2 separate regions of the Homo sapiens genome follow, and region 2 is linked to region 1. A link means that fine-mapping ties the variant in region 1 to the expression of a gene that starts in the linked region. Tissue or cell type: whole blood. Region 1 holds a variant in brackets; the other region holds the start of a gene. Each region is shown on its reference strand, or each on the opposite one. Region 1 overlaps TRPM3 (transient receptor potential cation channel subfamily M member 3). Region 2 holds the start of LINC01801 (long intergenic non-protein coding RNA 1801).

The links. PIP is the estimated chance that this variant, and not a neighbour inherited with it, causes the effect.
Region 2: LINC01801 starts here. The variant in region 1 is fine-mapped to the expression of LINC01801 in whole blood (TOPMed, PIP above 0.99).

What each region holds. Positions count from the first base shown.
Region 1 is chr9:70,613,202-70,616,116 of GRCh38, forward strand. TRPM3 (transient receptor potential cation channel subfamily M member 3) reads right to left here. Exons shown (of 26, transcript NM_001366145.2): 18 at 2,707-2,874. Among named protein-coding and RNA genes, the nearest start is that of MIR204, 200 kb to the right of the region's middle. The variant T/A (reference allele first, on the strand shown) is at 1,601.
Region 2 is chr19:34,831,342-34,834,256 of GRCh38, forward strand. LINC01801 (long intergenic non-protein coding RNA 1801) reads right to left here and starts at 1,528. Exons shown (of 6, transcript NR_033982.1): 1 at 1,384-1,528; 2 at 989-1,195.

The sequences.
Region 1 (2,915 bases):
TGTCTTTTCTCTGTATTCAGACATTTCCTTTGACATTCCTTAAAGCAGAATCTAACAGGGTCAAATATAGACAAAACTGCACAGCATGATTTGAGAATCTATGCTGGCTAGACACAGATGTCAAGGCTGAGAAAGTTCTTTTGAGGTGAACTAAACTACTAAAAGCTACAAAAATGGAGTGAATTGAGGTTGATATTTTCGTGTGTCGTTTTGGAAGGGCCAAAGGAAAATGTCCCATTCCAAGAGAGGATATACTGGTTTAACACAGAAGCTCAAATATCAATCCCATAAAAGGAGGGGAAGTGCCAATGAGCTGCACTCTGCAGTTCTGTCCAAGTTCTGTCCACTGACCAGTGCCTGAGCAGTGACAGAATTTGCCATCAGAGTCAAGGGAAGGGTCCACTTTACAGACAACTGCTGTCCAGCCCTGAGTTTGCCAGGCCACATGTCCTTTCCTTCTTTCCTTCTCCCTGCTGTTTCTGCCTGTGGAGAAGAAGCTTGGGCAGCAAAGCTCTTGCAGAACCTTCTACTGGGCTCTTAGTAAACAACGTCAGGGTCTATTCTCTTGTTACTAAACTTTGCTCTTAGTCTAGAGATGCATCTCTTATGGTGGCTTCTTGAAGGATCAGGTTCTCAAAGCTCTAGGCTGAGCAGGGGAAGCTACCTCCCTTTGCTTTCTTCCTTGAGACCCAACCAGAGAGAATGCTGATTCAGTTTCTGGATGTCTTCCTAGGATGTGTGCTGATGTCAGGACTGTGCCACACTTGACTTTGGAGGCTCATTCATCACTTTTGGATTCTTTCTGCTACATGGTGGACCAAATCGGCTGAGTGGCCACACTTGAGACTAGAGAGACATTCTCTCTCACCCTTAACCTATTGTCTAAAAGTGTGGCTGATGGAGTCTATATGCCTGGGTTCTAATCTTAGCTTTGCCATGAACAGGCTGGGTATCCTTGAGCAATTTAACCTCTATGACTGTCAGCTTCCTCATTTGTAAAATGGGGATTAGGACTGGGTGTGGTGGCTCACACCTGTAATCCCAGCACTATGGGAGGCCAAGGCTAGAGGACTGCTTGAAACCAGGAGTTCAAGATTAGCCTGGGCAATCTCTTAAAAAAAAAAAAAAAAAAAGGCCAGGTGTTGTGGTGTGCACCTGCATTCCCAGCTACTTGGGAGGCTGAGGTGTGAGGATCCCTTGAGCCCAGAGGATCCCTTGAATCCCATTGAGGTTACAATGAGCTATAATCACACCATTTTACTCCAGCCTGGGTGACAGAGTGAGACCCTGTCTCTAAAAATAAATAAATAAATAAAATGGGGATAATAATAGTGCCTATCTTGTGGGACTTTTGTGAGGATTCCATTAGTAAGTATGTGTAAAGCACTTAGCACTGTTAAAACAGTATTAGTTCACAGTGTGCCAGTCTCCAATATAAGTAGTTTACAGGCACACTTTTTACACGAGACAACTACTTGTGAGGTAGACAACATTATTGTTCCTGTGTTTGAGGTTATAAAATTGTGCCCAAGGTCACACAGCAAGTAGGTAATGGGGCAGGATTCTGGCTACAGAGCACATGTTCAGCTGAAATATTCCA[T/A]AAAGATTCAGTATTACTATTGCCAATTTTCTTCTAATGATCAAACTATTATATTCTATTCAGAGGACAAAACTATGGTGAGATTGTTAGGGAAGACAGTCGTCTGTTACAGAGCTGAGCCGACTCCTCCACAGATTTTTATACAAATCCTCAAACTGAAACAAAAGTTGGCCTTTCATTCAGTAAGTCAGGGATTATGTCTGCAAATAGATCTTTAGGAGAAGCCTACTGGAAGCAAATATTGTTTACCTGCAGGAGAAACAATTCACACTGCTGTCCTACTAGGATAATAATGCAAAGGCCTTTTGTCACCTGAGCAAAATTAATTTGTGATTTCACCCCTTATAGCTTCTGGGTCACTACAGCAATGGTCATTGGTGGGGGTGGTGAGGGAGGGTGAGGCATATTGAGAAAGTCCTTATGGAGCTGTTGCTTGATGACTTCCAAGCTATGAAGCCTTGTTTGTCCCTTTAACAGAATGTGATATTTTTAGCCTCTGCACATGAGCCAGTGGCAGTCACGCTGCTCAGGCGGGGGTTGCAAGAAGCTGTCCCATGTCCAGCTGCCCCCTTCCCTCTGCAGAACAAAGCCTCTATGCTCTATAATTATATGAGGAAGAGCTAATAAAAGCTTTGCATACAAACCTCAAAATTCAATTAGTGCTGTAATTGTGAGCCTGACCCTGAAGACAGATACAGGCTTAGCTTCTGATCCGCAGAACAGTACCAGTTCAGTGAAGCCGGCTGCTCTCAAATCATGGATTCCCTTTCCTTCTCTGTGTGCTGAGACAGACACATCATCTGGTTGTTTAAAAAGCTTTGCTTGTTTGGAAAATGTAGAGTGTCTTGCTTTAGAATTTCATTGGTTTGTCCTGCACCACTAGCTGGCTGCAAGACTTCACATATGGGTGGACCCTATGGTCATGCTATTTACACTTTTCCAATACCCTGGTCTCAATACTGAAATGAAAGCACTCCATGATTAAACCTGGTGGAAGGCTGGGAACAGATGTCTGACCTAAGGAGTTACTGAATCTTGAGCATATCGGTGGGACAAGTGGATTAGGAATTCTGCCCATAGAGAATAACTGTGCAATGTTTTCTTACTGTGAGCTCCATGTCCTCTTCCTCTTTTTCCTTTGTGGGCTTCTCTGGTTCTTCTGCCTCCTTCTCTTGGAGGTGGATTTCCTGGGCCTGAGACATATAGGGCATGTCGTCTTTGTTCTTGAACTCCAAGCTGAGAATTGAAGGAGGAAGTAGAATTCCCAGAATTACCTAAAGTAATAATAATGATAATAATAATAATCACATTTAAA
Region 2 (2,915 bases), not on the chromosome of region 1:
CATAGCCTTTGTGGGTCACGTTGTCTGTGACACAGACTCTTTGTGTTTCTGTGTATTCTGCTGCAACTCTTTAAAATTGTTAATAGGATCCTTCACTCACTGGCCTTACATGTAGGCTACAGGCTAAATTTGTTGGCCCATAGGCTGCAGTGCTGACCCTTGCTGCGAAATATTTCTAGGAGAAAATACTCAAGACCTAAATCTATGGAGATATATATCATCCCTGTGGCCTGGAAAAGTTAATATTGGCAAGTTGTCCATCTTGGCCAGGACCCTGAAAGATAGTCTATGTTATTGTAAGAAAGATTGGTGTCCTTGGGGGCATGGGCTTTTAAGCCAGGGTGGAATCTGCAGAAGTCTGAGGTGCCATTTCCTGTCCCTATACCTGGGAGAAAATAGCTCTCAGACAGCTGTGTGGCTTTCTGCAAAGCTCAATTAGAAGAGAAATTATCAGGCGTGGTGGCGCATGCCTGCAGTCTCAGCTACTTGGGAAGCTGAGGTGGGAGGATCTCTTGAGCCCAGGAGTTCGAGGTTGCAGTGAGCTGTGACTCCAGCCTGTGTGACAGAGTGATACGCTGTCTGGAGAAATTCATCATGGAGATATGCTGATAATTGGTGGTCCCTGCCTACATCCTCCCAGGAGACTGAGCCAGACCCGGTGTGGCCAATGGTCCACTTATAAATTGAACCATGTTAGACCTCCTAACAGTGCAAGTACTCATTACAGCTCTGACATGGTGCTAAGCACCCCAAGTATTATAAACAAGTGTAATCCATTATGCACACACGGTGAGGCTACACCAAAGTCTGGTGGTTAAATGCATGATCTGTGGAATCAGACAGCATGGGTTCAAACCCTGGCTGGGGTGAGATGGGGAACTTTCTAAGGCTTAAATGCTGTTTTACCAAATATTTTAAAAGAAGTGAAAATACACTGCCTGTTAGAAAGGGAAGTTTTGGGGTGAAGCATGTGGGCAGTTTAGAATACCTGGTGTCCACCTCAGAAACCATCACAGCCCAGATGTTATAGGTTCAGGCCTTTCCAGGGCGGGCACATAGAATGTCCTCGCCTCCAAGGTTTGGAGAGCTGCGCTATAAAGGTTCTTGCAGGCGGTGTCCTGAGCCCAGAGCTGCCTGCAGGCGGGCAGGAGTTGTGGGGGTGTTGGCATGATCTGGTGTCCTCTGTGGCGGCTGCCTGAAAAGAAGAGGCCGAGGGTTCTTTGTCCTATGTCTCTCCGAATCTTAATACCTGCCCTGCAGCAGACTCCCTGGCTGCCAGGGCACACCGGTCACCCCGGTAGACGGTGCCGCCCCGCCCTCGCCAACCCCTTATCCCAACTCCCATTTCCAGCCTTCCAGGAAGCCCGATCCCCACCCCCGCACCATGTGAGCTGCTCCTCTACTCCGCGTAGGGGAGGCTCTGCCTCCGGTGACCCCGAGGGAAAGAGCTAGAGCACCCACAGGTGCTGACTGCTGCGGCGCTGAGGACGCTGCACACCCGTTCACCGGCTGACCCAGTGCTGCTGACAACCAGCGTCCGCGGCCCCCAACCGTCGAACAGAGCGCGTGGGACCATCTGGTGCCAAACGCCTGCAACGGAGTGCAGAAGGTCACGAGGCGCTAGAGACCGGTTGGGGGCAGGCGGTTGGGCCTTGACGCTCTTTGCTGGGCGTCGTTTTTTCTTCTCGCCCCCTTCGCTCCTGTGCGCTTAGTGCACAAGCCCTGGGCTCACACACCCTTTCTCTGTCACGTGTTCCAACAGCATCTCACCTGCATCGGGCTGAACAGGAGACCTCAATTTTCTCCTCTACTCCAAGGATTCGCCGGCTCACAATTGCTCTTCATATCTTCAGCAAGCTTTGTCTGTGCCCTGCCCCTCTGTCCCCCATTGCCTACCATACCCGCTCCCACCAAGCCTGCATCACCTCGCTGTCTCTGTGCCTCTCCCCGGCCCCCTTCCAGGCCTTTCTCCCACAATTTCTGGTCTTTGCTCCTGGGTGTTCCGTCGACCCTAAGAGGCGGTGTCTGATCTGGCAGGCTCAATGCCTTTCTCTGGCGCTGTCTGCACCTCCAATATATTCAGTGACTCAGGAAGGATCCATCCTGCAGGGCCCAGATAGACTCTCCTGTTTGCCACCTGAGCAGAAAGGCACCTCTGTGAGGTCTTTGCCACCCAGTCACCCTACCAGACCCAATCAGCACGTGGGAGACGTGGATGACAGGAGGACAGAGATGGAGAGGGACCAAAAGACTACATGGGGCCTTGAAGGATGTCATAAGAACGTTGCCTTTTACTGAGAGATGGGAACCATGGAGGGTTTCAAACTGCTGAGACTGGCATGATATGACTTAGGGCTTTTTTGTTTGTTTGTTTGTTTGTTTTTTCTTTTTTGTGACGGAGTCTCAGAGTCTTCCTCTGTCATCCAGGCTGGAGTGCAGTGGTGTGATCTTGGTTCACTAGAACCTCTGTCTCCCGGGTTCAAGACATTCTCCTGCCTCAGCCTCCCGAGTAGCTGGGATTACAGGCACCCACCACCACGCCCGGCTAATTTTTGTCTTTTTAGATGTTTTATCTCAGAGAAAGAGCTTCCATGTTCTCTAACTCTTGTAAACAGGTATTCTTCAAGAAACTTTACAATATAACATTCATACACAGAAGTGTACAAATCATCTGTCTATTCCTCAATACATTTTTGCAGAATGAACAAACCTATGTAATCTAGATCAAGAAGCAAAACACAGGCACCTCAGAATCAACCTCATGCTCATTCCTAGTCACTATGCCCCTCCCAAATTTTTAACATTATAGATTAGTTTTGCCTATTTAAAAACTTTATATAAATGGAACCCTACCATGTGTCCTGTTTGTGGCTGTGTCTTTTCATTCAACACTTCATAAAATTCATCCATGTTGT